Linked DNA regions of Homo sapiens: region 2 is linked to region 1. Evidence: fine-mapped expression QTL. Tissue or cell type: hypothalamus. Region 1 holds a variant in brackets; the other region holds the start of a gene. All regions are shown on one strand. Distances are from middle to middle.

Region 1 (8,264 bases):
TTATTCATAACAGCCAAAAAGTAAAAACAACTCAAATATCCATCAGTAGAGAAATGGATATGCAAAATGTGGTTTATCCATACAATGGAATATTATTTGGCCATAAAAAGGAATGAAGTTCTGATACACACTACAACATGGATGCACATTGAAAACATTATGCTAAGGGAAAGAAGCCAGACACAAAAGAACACACCTCATATGATCCCATTTGCATGCATATCTAGAATAGGCAAATCCATAGAGAGTAGATTAGTAGTAACCAGGGACTGGGGAGGCGAGGAATGTGGAATGACTGTTAATAGCTATGAGGTTTCTTTTGGGGGTGATGAAAATTTTCTGGAATTAGAGAGTGGTGACAGTCGTACAATTTTGTGAATATATATAAATCCACTTAACTGTACCCCTTTTAAAAAATCCTATCTTGTTCGTGCTCAATAAATGCTTATTGATGGGGACTGCTGTAGGGAAGCAAGCCCAGATGTGGTAAACAGAAACTTCCACTATATATATCTGTAAGAGGCTAACCACCTCTATAAGATTATAAGGCCCTTGAAAGCAGGGAAGCCTTCTCATATATTTCCCTTAACATCCAGTATATTAGATTACACTACGCAGTATTCAATCAAGGTTTGCTAAATTAATTATTATCCATCCACATTTTACACAACAGGGATCTAGAAGATAAAAGCCCTGCCCGAGATTCCCCATTAATTAGAAAAACTCACTTTTATTCCCAAGAATCCTGAATTGCCACAAATAAGGCACTTCTCATAATCTGACATTTATATCGTCCATTAATACCATTCCTACCACCATATAATAATCCAGAGGACCCACTTCTAGTTAAAACCCATTTCAAATTCTCTACCTTATATCTATCACGAAATGCCACTTACTGGTCTCTCAGTATGTTCTTCTACCTCTTTAACCATATTCCCTAAGCTAGAAATGCCCCACATGGTTAGTCTCATTTGTTCTTCTCAAATATCCCAGAGCCAAAAAGGACCATCATCATCTTCATTTCACAAATGAAAAACAAAGTCAGTCAGTCTAAGGTTACCTGGTCTCCTAAATTCAAGTTTATCTTTCTTCACATATGTCATGTATTTCCAAGCTTTTTTTCTCTTTGGATAACTGGGAACTTTCTGTTAAGTTAGCTTTAAAAAAAAATAAGCATAAATAAAAAAGATATAAAATCGAAGTTTTTCTTTTAATCTCAATAAGTCTAAAGTCCAGAATAAGTGGAGAACTGGGGCAAGAGGACAACAAAAGAAGTCTTGTTCCAGCCTGGGCATCATGGCGAAGCCCTGTCTCTACTAAAAACACAAAAAATTAGCCGAGTGTGGTGGCACGCACCTGTAGTCTGAACTACTGAGGAGGCTGAGAATCACCTGAGCCCAAGAAGCTGAGGCTGCAGTAAGCTGAGATTGCGTCACTACACGCCAGCCTGGGCGACAGGAATGAGATCCTGTCTCAAACAAACAAACAAACAAACAAAAAAGTCTTGTTGAGAACAAGAAGAGATAAACCAAAGGCCCATTGCTTAGGGAAGATGCAATATCAAGAGACAACAGGGCCAATTCCCTATGCTTCATCTTCATCAAGAAGCATGATCTTCAAGCTAGGGAGGTCAGAAATCTGATAAAAGGAAACCAGCTTCTAAGGTAAGTGGCATGGGTAGGGGACAGTAACAGAATACAGAGCTAGTTCAAAAGAATATGCTTTCTGATCCAAATAACTCACACTCCATGATGCTGAAAAAACTTTTACATCTGCCTTAAAAACTACCACAAATTATCTAAGCTACCTTGACAAGGTGCCAGAAGACCAGAAATCAAATAAATAGAAATAAACACATGCTCAAATTTCAAAAAAGGAGAAATGCAGGCCGGGCGCAGTGGCTCATGCCTGTAATCCTAGCACTTTGGAAGGCCGAGGTAGGCGGATTGCCTGAGCTCAGGAGTTCGAGACCAGAATGGGCAACACAGTGAAACCCCATATCTACTAAAATACAAACAATTAGCCGGGCGTGGTGGTGTGCGCCTGTAGTCCCAGCTACTCGGGAGGCTTGAGGCAGGAGAACTGGTTGAACCTGGAAGGCAGAGGTTACAGTGAGCCGAGATCATGCCACTGCACTCCAGCCTGGGCGACAGAGCAAGACTCCATCTCAAAAAAAAAAAAAAAAAAAAAAAGGCGGAATGCAGATCCAGAAAAACATCTGTGGGTAAACCTGCTATGTAACTGCTGAAAAATTCTAAAATGGATAAATAAGTTTTCGAATACAGTAAAATGAGAAAGCCACCATCAGCTCTTTATTAAGGCAGGCTATACAACATGTGCTTTTTATTTAACAGGATTACTAAAATGGAAAAAGGGAGGATGACAGGATGATATATACACATAACAATCTAACAAGACAATCTGAAAGAATCTTTTAAATAATAGGCTGGTGAACAAAATGGGAAAATGTTGAACAGCAGAAGCTCGAAAATCTGTTAAATTCAACTAACAGGATGCATAGCTAGTTGAACATCTGGTTGACTAACGTAACAACATCAACCAAGTTGGTAGAAAGTCTCCAGTAATATGTCGCAGGGTTCCATCCTTTTTCACAATCTAGACAACTTCTATTAATTTAATGAAGCCATAGAACTGCTCTTCATATTTGCAAGTGAAAAAAACCTGTGAGTGACCCAACACGCACAGCCTGACCGAATCAGCTCCAGAAAGCTCACAGTAGGCTGAAATGATGGTCCAAAACCAAAAATGAATATCTACAGGGAATCGAGGGCTGTATTTAGTTTTAAAACTGAAATAGGCCGGGCGCGGTGGCTCACGCCTGTAATCCCAGCACTTTGGGAGGCCGAGGCTGGCAGATCACGAGGTCAGGAGATCGAGACCATCCTGGCTAACACGATGAAACCCCATCTCTACTAAAAATACAAAAAATTAGCCGGGCATGGTGGCGGGTGCCTGTAGTCCCAGCTACTGGGGAGGCTGAGGCAGGAGAATGGCGCGAACCCGGGAGGCGGAGCTTGCTGTGAGCAGAGATCACCCCACTGCACTCCAGCCTGGGTGACAGAGTGAGACTCCGTCTCAAAAAAAAAAAAAAACGAAATAGGCCAGGCACATTGGCTCACACCTGTAATCTCAACACTTTGGGAGGCCGAGGCAGGCGGATCACCTGAGGTCAGGAGTTCAAGATCAGCCTGGCCAACATTGTGAAACCCCATCCCTACTAAAAATACAAATTAGCCCGGCATGGTGGTGGGCGCCTGTAGTCCCAGCTACTCCGGAGGCTGAGGCAGGAGAATCACCTGAACCCAGGAGCCAGAGGTTGCAGTCAGCCAGGATTGCGCCACTGCACTCTAGCCTGGGTGACAAAGTGAGACTCCATCTCAAAAAAAAAAACATGACAGAGTAAACTTCAGTTTGTGGGGGGATACCTAGATAATAAAAGCTACTAAACAAACTGTGCACAATTTCGAGCTGCATTAACAGATGTGTGTGTCCAGACTGTATTAA[C/T]ATGGTTCTCAAACTTACCAACTAAAAAAATTTTTTTTCCATATGAATCGTTCCCAAATCTTCATCCTAAAAAGTTACAATAAGAATCTACAAGTATCACTTAGTTAAAACTCTAGCTTTAGACCCAGTTATTCAAGTATATCTTACTGCTAGAAAACATTTTATTTGATCAGCTTAATTTATTGACATTTATATCAGTGATGAATACGCTTGAAAGAAGACTCAGATATTACTAAATCCAAGTCTCTTTTTTAAAAGGAATGGAAACTAAGAGAAATTAAGTAACTTGCCCCAAATTACACAGCTGCTTAACAAGGACCATGACCCCTAGATCAGTCCCCTTTTTCCCACACTGCATGTCACCCACCCCTCCTCTTCAATGCATAGTACCCCAGGGTGACTAACTGAGCCCCAGGCTTCACACGCACACACACCACACAAAAACACAGGTTCACTTCTCCGGCCCTGGGACTTTCCTGCCCATACCCGAGGTCACTCCAAGCCCCTACATTCCATCTTAGAACCCAAAGAACACACACACACACACACACACACACACACACACACACACAGTCGCTCTGCATCACCAACCCACATCCTCAAGGGTATCCATCCCTCTATTTCTTTTATTTCCTTTCTTAAAACTTGAACTATGCAAGTTAGAAAGTACACACAAAAACATCCCATCAAGACACACTATATTTTGCTAAGAACGAATTAGCTTAGCAAGAACAAATACCCGCGACACATTAGCTGGAAAAATATTGACATGGTGCGATCACTTACAAGTTTGATAATTAATATTTGTTACATAAAAAGGCACTCTAATATACAACTGGTTTTTATTCTTAAAGTATGATTATGTAATAAAGCATTACCCCATATCCCGTTCAACATCAGAAAAATAACAGAAAAGTTTTTTCACGGATGGAAATGCTTTTAATGGACATGCCATTGTTTACTGTGCTCAAAACTGCCATTCCCCTCATAAAACATTACCATATGAAAATTATTAAAAGATTTAAGGCCTTCAAACCTAAATAGCGGGCCAAAGGCTTGCTTCATTTAGGGTAGCATAAGCATCTGCGCTGAGACTCTCTTGCTCCTTCCTCACTCTTCCAGAAATAATGCCCCTTCAAGAGCCCAAAAGTATAAAGGTTGTCCGGCAGATTCCCAGTGGCCTTATGTTCCTCCCTCCTCCCCCTACTCCGCCTTGGTTTAAAGAAGACAAGAGAAGGCTCCAGAATTGATAAAAGGGCAAGTTAGCAAGGATGTGGCTTATGATCACTAGCATCTGCTAGGCCAGCTCCAAGAAGACCCTCCACTCAAAAAATGAGACCTGAATGCCTGTCTTTGCCCCAGGGCCATAATCCTTGTGCGCCTCTGGGACCCCTTTAGAAATGAAGAGGAACTTTACTGCTGGGACCCTCCTCCCCAGTGTTATCCACTAAAGCCTCAGCAAGCTCTTTGTTTCCAACAGCTGTGGGGGGGCAAGCGGCCTTGGAGAGAGGGGAGAGGTCACTCCCTTGCTCCCCGCTGCTGCCAGAATCCAGGCCCTCCCGCAAAACACACACACACAGGCACGACATCTTCCCTGGGACCCAATTCTCTCTTTCCACACTTTAATAACCCAGGGTTACACCTTGCTACACAAGGGCATTCCCTGAGACCTAATTTCCTCTTTCTACATCCAAACCCTACACAGGATGATGACTCCCAAGCCTCCTCCCCTTTGAAAAGACATAAATGGGGTTCGCTATAGGGCACCCATCCCTCCTCTTCAATGCATACCCCAGGGTGACTAACTGAGCCCCAGGCTTCACACACAACACACAAAAACACAGGGTCACTTCCTGGGCCCTGGGACTTTCCCCGCTCATATCCACAGACCCGAGGTCACTCTAAGCCCCCAGATCCCATCTCAGAACCCAAAGAACACACACGCGCGCGCGCGCGCACACACACAGTCACTCTGCATCGCCAAACCGCGTCCTCAAGACAACCCGTTCCCTTTATCCACACGACCCCCACCCCCGAGACCCCCAGTGCCTTAAGGAAGAATCTCCCCAGCACATCAGCACATGGTCACTCCCCTGCCCTCACCCCGCCCAGCCCCCTCGCCGTCTCCCACCCACCGCACTCTGCACACACACACACAGATCCCTGCCTGGGGCCGCCCTCCCTCCCCTCAGCCTTCACAACACAAACACACGCTCCCGCGAGCACACCCACGACCACACCGGGAGCCCCGGCCGGCCGCTCAGCCTCGCCGGCCCCGGCCCCGGCCCCACCGCCTCCCCACACGCCGGGCCGCCCTCGCCCAGCCACTCGACACACTCGGACGCACCCACGGCCACTCCCATCCCCAGCGCCGGTCCCAAAGCCACACCGCACGCTCGCGCCCTGCCCTCCGCCCTCGCTCACCCTCGGGCCCACCCCTGGGACCCCCACGACGGGGTCTTTCCCAGCCCGGCCGACCGCAGGGACCACGAGGGAGGCGGCAACGGAGGGGTGGGAAGACCTAGGGCCGGCTCCGACCGGTCCTACCTGAGCAGTTGATGCTCTTGCCTTTGCCGCCGGGACAGTCCCCGCCGCTGCCGCCGCCACCACCCGGGGGCTGGTTGGACGCGCGGCTCCCGGGCAGAGAGAAGGCGAAGAGCAGAAGCACCGACGTGTAGCAGCAGAAGGCGAGCGGAGGCGCGGCAGGCAGCCGGAGCGGCGCCTCAGCGGCTGCGGCGCCCATGACTGGTGCCCCTGGACGGCGGGAAGCGCAGGGAGCCGCAGGCCGGGGGCATCCAGCCGCGCGCCCAGAGCCCCGCCGCTGCCTCGGTGCCTCCTAGCAGCCGCGCCGCTGAGCCGGGGAGCAGCCCGTCAGCATCCCCGCCCCACCCGCAGCGTCCGCCAGGCCCGGGCCCGCGGCGCTCGGGACGGAGTCGGCGGGTCCGGGCGCGTGCGAGGGTCGCGGGCGCGCAAGGGTGCGCGCGAGGGTGCGAGCCGGCGTGGGGGACACCGCGGCGAGGGGAGCGGGCGGGCGCGCGCGCGGCGGGCGGGGGTCGCGGGCCGGAGGCAGGCCCAGCCTCTTGCTCGCCTCCTCGCCTTCCCTTTGTGTCCGTGGCCGTTGCCACCGCGTCACAAAGACCCCGGCCCGCCCGGTGAGGGGCGCGTGACGGAGCCGCCGGCGGGAGGGGTGGCTGCGACCCCGCCCCGCGCACACCCCCAGCTCCCGCGCCGACAGCTCCGCCCCCGGCCGCGGCCGGCGCCGCCTCCAGGGGAGCTATTGTTCCTGCGACAGGGCAGGGGCGCGGGGGCCGGGGTTGGGGCCACCCCTCGGCGGTAGGCTGCACCGTAGCAGACTTGTTTGCCGCCCTTTGTGAGCTGTTTTTGAAGCGTTTCCTTCGCCCAGCAGCAGGGCTGGGAATGAGGGCAGGTGGTCTGTCATATATCTATAATAGTTTTTAGGTGGAAGAAACTGAGTCACGGAAGAGGTAAAGGTGACTTGTCCAAGGTTGCATACCAAGAAATGGGCAGGACCAGGATGGGAGCCCAAGTTCTGACTCTAGCCATGCAGTTCTCAGAGATGTTGGGTGAATGGTTAGATTTCTAGGTTCCTCATCCCCACCTCATTCCCGTAGACTCACATACAAGTGAGTGAAAATAGTTTTACAAAAGTCTGTGTTGCCCTCTCCCCCTAACAAAAGCTGAGATTCAGAGAGGATTTTCTAATATACAAGGCCTGGTGAAAGCTCTTTATGTGCATTCTCTTCAATTATTTTTTTACAGGCCTCGGAGGGAGTTTTCGTTCTTATCTCCATTCTACAGATGAGGAAGTAGGGACCCAGAGAGGCAAGGTGATCTGACTCCCAGTCCAGTGCTCTTCCTACCACATCCTGCTAGGTGATAACTAGACATAGGTACTAAGATCATGGACTGAATTGTGTGAAAGTCCTCTGCCTTTTTCATTCTATTATATTGCATCCCACCCCAGAAGGAATTTTAAGTCTCATTGAAAAACTGATCAATTTGATTCATAAAATTAAGAAATGTGTGAAAAGCCACCGCAAGCAAAGCCACATTAGGAAAAATGTCTTCAGTGCAAATATGAGACAATATACTTAATATAAAGTTATATGTCAAGAAGAAAAAGTTAACATAATAGAAAAATAGGAAGCTTGACTCTTATTCACAAAAAGTACAGACAATAAATACATGAAAACAGATTTGAACCCACTAGTAATAAAAGATTAAAACCACAAAACTCTGGCCAGGGGCAGTGGCTCACACCTGTAATCCCAGCACTTTTAGAGGCCGAGGTGGGCGGATCACCTGAGGGCAGGAGTTCGAAACCAACCTGGCTAACATGGTGAAACCCCGTTTCTACTAAAAATAGAAAAAATTAGCCAGGCATGGTGGCGCGCACCTGTAACGCCTATAATCCCAGCTACTTAGGAGGCTGAGGCAGGAGAATCGCTTGAACCCGGGAGGTAGAGGTTGCAGTGAGCAGAGATTGCACTATTTCACTCCAGCTTGGGCAACAAGAGCGAAACTCCATCACACACACACACGCACACACAATTATTTTCCCTTTGGATGATTAACAAGAGTTAAAAGAATTGGCAGACTGAGCACTACTAATTTATACATTTTAGGAGGGCAATTTGACTATGTATCAAAAAACCTTTAAAATATGTTTACTCTTTAGCAATTCCATTTATTGGAATTTATCTAAAGGATAACTG
Region 2 (8,000 bases), 48 kb after region 1:
CTATCTGACGGTGAGCTCCGAGGCATGGAACTACATTTTATATCTATCTTCAGCACATAGTAGATTCACAGTAAGTGTTTGTTTTAAAAAAAAAGTTGGGAGTGGGGACGCAGGCACAGTGGCTCACACCTGTAATCCCAGCACTTTGGAAGGCAGTGGGGGAGTACTGCTTGATGCCAGAAGTTTGAGACCAGCCTGGGCAACACAGTGATACTCCATCTCTAAAAATAAAAATTAAAAAATTAGCCAGGCATGAGCATCTGTAATCCCAGCTACTTGGGAGGCTGAAGTGGGAGGACCACCTGAGCCCAGGAATCTGAGGTTGCAGTGAACAATGATTGCACCACTGCACTCCAACCTAGGTGAAAGAGTAAAACGCTGTCTCTTTAAAAAAAAAAAAAAAAAAAGGCTAGGCATGGTGGCTCACGCCTGTAATCCCAGCACTTTGGGAGGCCGAGGTGGGAGGAGCACCTGAGGTCGGGAGTTCGAGACCAGCCTGACCAACATGGAAAAACCCCGTCTCTACTAAAAATACAAAATTAGCCAGGTATCATGGTGCATGCCTGTAATCCCAGCTATTCAGGAGGCTGAGGCAGGAGAATTGCTTGAACCCGGGAGGTGGAAGTTGCGGTGAGCCGAGATTGCGCCGTTGCACTCCAGCCTGGGCAACAAGAGCAAAACTCCATCTCAAAAACAAAAAAAAAAAGAAAAAAAGAAAAAGAATAAAGTGGCAGTGATGGAAGAACCTCTCTTCCAAGCCTCAACCTCTCTCCTTAGCATCAAACACATTTCCAATTATCTATCAGCCACCTCTGTGCCCCACTATGGGTACCTCAGAAAACTCCAACTCTCCATAGCCAAAACCAAACTAATTATTCCCCATACACCAAAATCTCCTGATTTCTGATGATGTCAGCCACATCAACTTGGCTTCCCAAAGCAGAAATGTAATCTTCAATCACATGCAACTAATTAACAAGACCTATGGTACATTTTACCCAAACATCTGTTCCCTCCTCTCCCATTCTCACTGCCCATGTCTGTGGACAGAGCTAATCTCTAAAATGGTCTCCCAAACTTCCATACCCTCTTCCACACAACTACAGGGATCTTCCTAAAACACAGTGATCAAGCCACAGGCCTCCTTGTAAACCTCAGACGTCTCTCCCACTGCCTAAACGATAAAAGTCCCAACTCTTCACATGGCATTCATGGCCTTTCCGGATCTGGTCCTGATTATAGCACCCCCACCAGCCCCTCATTCTCTCCATGTATTTTCAACCTAACCAGACCAAACTCAACACGCGGCTTCCTTTGGCTGGAATCCTTTACCCCAAGGCCACCAAGGGCCCATTTTCAATCTCTCTTTTTTTTTTTTTTTTTTGACACAGAGTCTCACTCCCAAAGTGCTGGCATTACAAGCGTGAGCCACCGCGCCCGGCCCATTTTCAATCTTCAAAGCCCAACTCTCATGCAATTTTTGTTAAGCCTTCCTCAATTAATACCCAGTCTGTTATGTTTATTTTCTTTATAACGGCTTCCTTCTAAAATGGGTTTGAAGCAGCTTACAAATTACACACACACTGCAACTAGATTTTTTTTTTTTTTTTTTTGAGAGAGAGAGGAGAGACTAGCAGGGCAAAGATAAGACAAAGGTAAAAGAGATCAAAGTTAGGTGGTAAAGGAGCATTCAAAACCTGTGTCATAGCTGGGCACGGTGGCTCACGCCTATAATCCCAATACCTTGGGAGGCCAAGGTGGGCAGATCACCTGAGGTCAGGAGTTTGAGACCAGCCTGGCCAACATGGTGAAACCCCACCTCTACTAAAACTACAAAAATTAGCTGGGCGTGGTGGTAGGTGCCTGTAATCTCAGCTACTTGGGAGGCTGAGACAAGAGAATCGCTTGAACCCAAGAGGTGGAGACTGCAGTGAGCCGAGATCATGCCACTGCACTCCAGCCTGGGCAACAGAGCGAGACTGTCCCCCCCCAAAAAAAAAACAAAAACAAAAAACAAAAACCTGTGTCATAAGGTCTCATACTCACCTTGTTAGATATAGATTGGCCCTGAGTTCCCACTGGCTCAGAATGAGTTACTCTTCTATGAGCTCACTGACAGTTGTACATGACTGTACTGTAGCACTTCCCATATTTTTTGCAATTTGCTCTTTGCGTCCATCTCCCACACTGGACTGGGAAATTCCTAGGGGAATACATAATTTCTGACTCATCGCTGTATCCCCAGGATGTAACATATGACTCAGCACATGACTGGTGCTCAGCAGACATTTGTTGAATGAATGTTATCACGGACAGGGAATACGGTACTAGTGCTTGTTGAACTGCACGCCAGATATGTGAAAAAACATTATTTTATCCTCACAAAAAATGTACAAAGCTAAGAAATGGCAGAGCTAGGATTCAAACCCCAAACTGTCTATCTCTCCAAAGCAATTGCTCTTCCAAGTATGCATGATGTTCCCTACCTTCACCATCGCTACGTACCCACCTACTCTCTGCTTCAATGCCTGGTTAAAAACAAAATAAACCACCCTTCTCCCAGACGTCTTTCCTACTCACTCAGGACAGGAGTGCCTGAGTCCAGCCCTTGATCTTCCACAATACGTTAACAAATCATCACCAACTGGGAGAGGAAAGGGTGCCCCCTTGGTAGCTGAGAACTGAACAGCCTGTTGGGTATTCTGCAGATGGTGGGGTGAAGTCCTCAGCTCCTTCTTCTCCTGCCTTTCCCCACAGGTGCAGTGCCTGGGCCCTTCCTGCCTCTCTTCCTTCTTCAGGATCCAAAGCCTTTTTAGTTCTCCCCATTCTAAACCCAAAATAATCTCCTCAGGCCCATTACTTCTCTAACCCAGTGAATGGTGTTGAAAATGCACTCTTCCATTATATCAGTGAGACCTTTGTATTTTAAGCATCTCATCAACCATTAGGGCTGGCAAGCATCCCCATGCCCTGAAACACAAGAATTTTGTGAGAAGGGATAATGGCATTTTAGGAGGCCCAATCACCTGACCCTCCATCAATCTGAATATTTTTGGCGGCCTGGGAGTAAAAAGAGACAACCTATAACATCCCTCCCCACCCCCTGCCCCAGCAGCCTTTGTCCCCTAGCCCGGGTCTCTACGGGAGGGATGAAATCTGGCCCAGCAATGCTGCAGGGGAGGGATGGTGAACCCTGGTGCCTTCCTCTACATCTTCCTCCAGGACTTCAGAATCCTTCTTCTCCCCCTTGTCCATCCCATGTCTCTCTCTGGCCCTGGACTCCCACAGCCATCCTCAATCCTAACTCAGAAACTATGTTTTTTAATTAATATTCAGCAATTTCCTTGGAATACAATCATCTGCTCTGACATGCTGAAAGGCACACTCTCTGGCCCTGATATTATCCTACCTCCAGTTTTAAATGTATGACAAATATATCCCTGCATCCTATAACTACTCTCCTCGATACTGCAGGAACGTCTGTAATGTTAAATGTTATCACGCCTAAGAAATACCCAACCTCCTGAATCGGAATAGGGAGACTAAATTCTTCACTGTTTCGTACTCCTAAATAAAGATTATTCATGCAATTTACAGTAACTACCTCACAGCGCCAGGGTGATGATTCAATGATAATTCATGCCAACTGTTTAGTACCTAGGGCCTGGTACATACAGAGTGCTCAAAATTTAGCTGTTATCATTTACATACATTATCTTTCACAATAGTACCTGAGGGTAGATATTATACCACGCCCCCCCGACCCCCGCCTCTAATTTACAGAAACAGTAGCCCCGGCTCGGAGTAAAGGAGCTTTCCCAAGGTCAGTCAAGCAAGGATGTGATGCTCGGCCTTCATCCTGCAAGTGAGGGATCCCTCCCGTTACACTCTGGACGGGCGGGGCACTGGAGGTCTTAAAGGAGACAAGTATGGAAAAGCGCCGAGCACAGTGATCAGCACACAGTGGGGACGCCGGGATGGGAAGACCGCGGTACTGCAGGTCACCTGGATTCCCCCCGAGCAGCTCCCCGAGCCCGGGAGTCCAAAGCCCACCCCGCTCCCAGCCGTGGGCGCGCCACTGAGTACCCCAGAGGCCCGCGCCCCGGGGCTTTGTAGGCAGCAGGCCGGCCCTACTCACCGAGTCCCATCGCGGCGCGCAGAGGCGGCCGCCCGGCGCCCAGCCTGCAAGGCCGGGGTCGCAGCGGCTCGGCCCGAAAACCCTCCATGCCGGCCCCCGGCCCCCTCTACGCCCGGCCCGCGCCCCCCACCCCCGCCCCCGCCCGGCTGCGGCCCGCCCGGAAGGGGAGCCTCCTACCTGCAGCGGCGGCGCGGCAGCCGCGGCGACCGGGGGAGGGGCCGGCGAGGCGCGAGGGCGGGCGGCCTGGGCTCCTCTCGCAAGCAGGGCGGCCGGGAGGGCCGCGGGCTCCCGAACGCCGGGCGGCGGCGGCGGCGGCGGCGCGCCCCCGGCCGGCCAGGCCCCGCCGCGCGCGCCGCGGCCACAAAGCCCGGACGCCGCCGCCCCCTCGCGGACCGCCCGCCGCCTGCCGGTCCGTCGGCGCCGCCGAGGAGGGCGGGAGCGCGGCCCCGCGCCAGTCCCCACTTCCCCGAGCTGCGGCCGCCGGCCTCCAGGGGACTGGGGCGGGGCGCGGGGTGCCCCCCCGCCCACCTGCCCGTCCGCACCGACCCCGCTCCTGACATCCTCGGGCTGACGTCCTCGTGCTGATTTAGTTGCCTTTTTTCCCCACCTTTGCAGAGGAGCTCCTGAAGCGGCCCGAAAAACTGTTTTATTTCTATGAACAACAAAAGAATACATTTGTCACACGGGATTTGGCGGCCATGAACACGAGTTAGTTCAGTCCAGGTCCCCCGACTGAAATAGGCCCTTTTCTTTTAGGACTCCTTGATACTTGGGACAGCGAATCCCCCTATGCTGAGTTTATCAGAACTTCTGTTAATTTGTGGAACGTGCCTCCCCCAGGAGAGCGACTGTGCTCACTGGAGCCCAGGACCTGTCTCGGACACTGTGCTGACTCATTTGGAATTAATGCGTGTGTAAATGCATGCACAACAGCTCAAACTGTCGGGACAAGCCACCCTTTGCTCCTCCCGCAAACAGAGTGGCTGGATGTTTCTTTTGCCCTGGATCCATTGGGAAGACTCCAACCCCAGAGAAAGGCAGAGAAGGCTTTTTAACTTTTTTTTTTTTTGAGGTGAAATTCGCATAACATAAACCACTTAAAAGCGAACGATTTGGTGGCATTTATTACATTCATAATGTTGAGCAACCACTTCTATCTAGTTCTGAAACATCCATACTCCATTAAGCAGTAATTCCCCAGTCCCTCCTTCCTCCAGACCCTGGCAACGACTCAGCTATTTTCTATCTCTGTGAGTTTACTTTTTTCTGGGTATTTCATATAAATGCAACCATACAATATGCGGCCTTTTGTGTCGTTTCTTTGACTTAGCCTGTATTTAAGATTCATCCATGTTGAGGCGTGGATCAGTACTTCATTCCTTTTTATGGCTGATTAATATCCCATTGTATGTGTATATTATAATTTGTTTATTCATTCATCCCTTGATAGATATTTGGGTTACTTCCACCTTTTGGCTATTGTGAATAGTGCTGCTCTGAACATGCCTGTACACATATTTGAGTACCTGTTCCCAGTTCTTTTGGATACATACCTAGGAGTGGACTTTCTGGGTCATAGGGTAATTCTATGTTTAACTTTTCCAGGAACTGCCAAAAAGTTTTCCACAGCAGCTGAATGAATCATTTTACATTCCCATCACCAATGTTTGAGGGTTCCAAGTTTCCACAACCTTGTCAACACTTGCAATTTTCCGTTTTTGTGTTTTAATTCCTTGAACATTTTTGAGACTATTGCTTGCCCTCCCAACTCCCACTATCCATAGCCCTAAAGTAAAAACTGATCTAGGTTTTCACTATGTACAAAGAATCACGCAACCCTTTCTTTCTTCCCTCAAAAAACAATCCAGGGCAGAAGCACCAATAAAAATAAAGACCCTAAACTAAGAGCTATACTGGTCCTCATTCTTTTTCTTTTCTTTTTTTTTTTTTTTTTTTGAGACAGAGTCTGCTGGAGTGCAATGGTGCAATCTTGGCTCACTGCAACCTCCGCTTCCCGGGTTCAAGCAATTCTCCTGCCTCAGCCTCCCAAGTAGCTGGGACTATAGGCATGTGCCACCACTCCTGGATAATTTTTGTAATTTTAGTAGAGACAGGATTTCGCCATGTTGGCCAGGCTGGTCTCGAACTCCTGACCTCAAGTGATCTGCCCACCTCAGTCTCCCAAAGTGCTGGGATTACAGGCATCTCATTCATTATTTTAACAATAATTTGTCTGATGTCCAGGAGGCCTTGAAATTGTCCAGAGAGCCTGGAAACTAAAATTATACCAGGGGAGTTGCTACAATGTGCTAGCAAACAAGCTATGATACCACACCGAAAGCCAAGGCTGTACATCATTTACACTTGTTTTCCACTTAGTGCCATATTATAAGTCCATGAAGATTCCCTTCTTACATGCAGATACGGTCAAGGGAAAACTATTGGGGTGTGACATTGGAAGGTCAATTCAGATTGGAAATTTGATTGATAAAGTGATACAGTGTGGAAAAAGCACTAGATAAACGTGAACTAAGTTAAGCTCCTGAATCTCAGTTTTCTCATTTCATTTTTTTTTTTTTTTTTGAGACGGAGTCTCGCTTTGTCACCCAGGCTGGAGTGCAGTGGTGGCGCAATCTCGGCTCACTGCAAGCTCCACCTCCCGGGTTCACGCCATTCTCCTGCCTCAGCCTCCCGAGTAGCTGGGACTACAGGCGCCTGCCACCACGCCTGGCTAATTTTTTTTGTATTTTTAGTAGAGACGGGGTTTCACCATGTTAGCCAGTATGGTCTCGATCTCCTGACCTCGTGATCCGCCCGCCTCTGCCTCCCAAAGTGCTGGGATTACAGGCATGAGCCACCATGCCCGGCCAGTTTTCTCATTTCTAAGATGGGAATATGATGCCTACCTGGCTGGGTAGATAAAAGCTTCTAGTCTTAACTTCAGCAAATGATCAGTGTTATTTTATTGATTTAAATAATGAAGATTGTGGCTCATGCCTGTAATCCCAGCACTTTGGGAGGCTGGAGCATGTGGATCGCTTGAGCCCAGGAGTTCAAGACCAGCCTGGGCAACGTGGCAAAACCCCATCTCTACCAAAAATACAAAAATTAGCCAGTCTCATAACCTGGTCTCAAAATAAATAAACAGATAAAATTTTAAAAATAAAAAAATTAATGCTGTAATAAATAAATAAATAATGGTGATTGACATGAGCCACATGTAGGTGTACTGCTAAGGAGACATGGGAAACTCAAATTTAGTCATGTGTCTCTCCTCAAACAAAGAGAGCAGACTATCTTAAAAACTAATGGGGCAGGGTAACTACTCAGGCCTGCAATATGGTGGCTGCCTTCCCAGCTCTCTCCTTGATCCCTGACTTAGTTCTGCATGCTACCTTGGACAACTGACTTCTTTTTCTTTTTTTTTTTTTTTTTTTTACTTTGGATCACTTACATCAAATTAAATAGGTTTCTTGAAAACACAGAGAAAACACTCAATAAATGTGAGCTATTTTATCAATAATAAAGCTATTACAGTTTCTTTGTAGAAAGTGTTAACAGAAGGGCAGCGTCTACACAGAGTCTAGGAAAAGAAAACCATAAAGAACTCATCCATGTGACTTGTCCCTTTTTCAAATGCTGGAGGGTCCCTTCAGGAGATCCATTCCTGTGATGGAGATGAGTGATGCATTGCGCTCCACAGGTTGCTGAGAATAGCTATACATATTGTATCTTTTTTGCTAGGATCCAGGCTCACCAAGCAGTCTTGATATAGTAGTTGATTTCAACGACATCTTTTTTTTTTTTCCTTTTTTATTCCTTTTAGAGACAGGGTCTTGCTCTGTCACCCAGGCCAGAGTGC

What was found. PIP is the estimated chance that this variant, and not a neighbour inherited with it, causes the effect.
Region 2: MSANTD3 starts here. The variant in region 1 is fine-mapped to the expression of MSANTD3 in hypothalamus (GTEx, PIP above 0.99).

Annotation. Positions count from the first base shown.
Region 1 is chr9:100,471,552-100,479,815 of GRCh38, reverse strand. All of the region lies in intron 1 of MSANTD3-TMEFF1 (MSANTD3-TMEFF1 readthrough), which reads right to left. TMEFF1 (transmembrane protein with EGF like and two follistatin like domains 1) reads right to left here and starts at 6,667. Exons shown (of 10, transcript NM_003692.5): 1 at 6,076-6,667. The coding sequence starts at 6,271. It overlaps LOC124902237 (a long non-coding RNA gene), which reads left to right and starts at 6,926. Exons shown (of 3, transcript XR_007061702.1): 1 at 6,926-7,013; 2 at 7,309-7,439. RefSeq lists silencers at 5,882-6,041, 6,352-6,411, 6,692-6,851. The variant C/T (reference allele first, on the strand shown) is at 3,529.
Region 2 is chr9:100,423,709-100,431,708 of GRCh38, reverse strand. It overlaps MSANTD3 (Myb/SANT DNA binding domain containing 3), which reads right to left and starts at 4,566. Exons shown (of 3, transcript NM_080655.3): 1 at 4,316-4,566. RefSeq lists silencers at 4,070-4,189, 4,230-4,459, 4,500-4,729.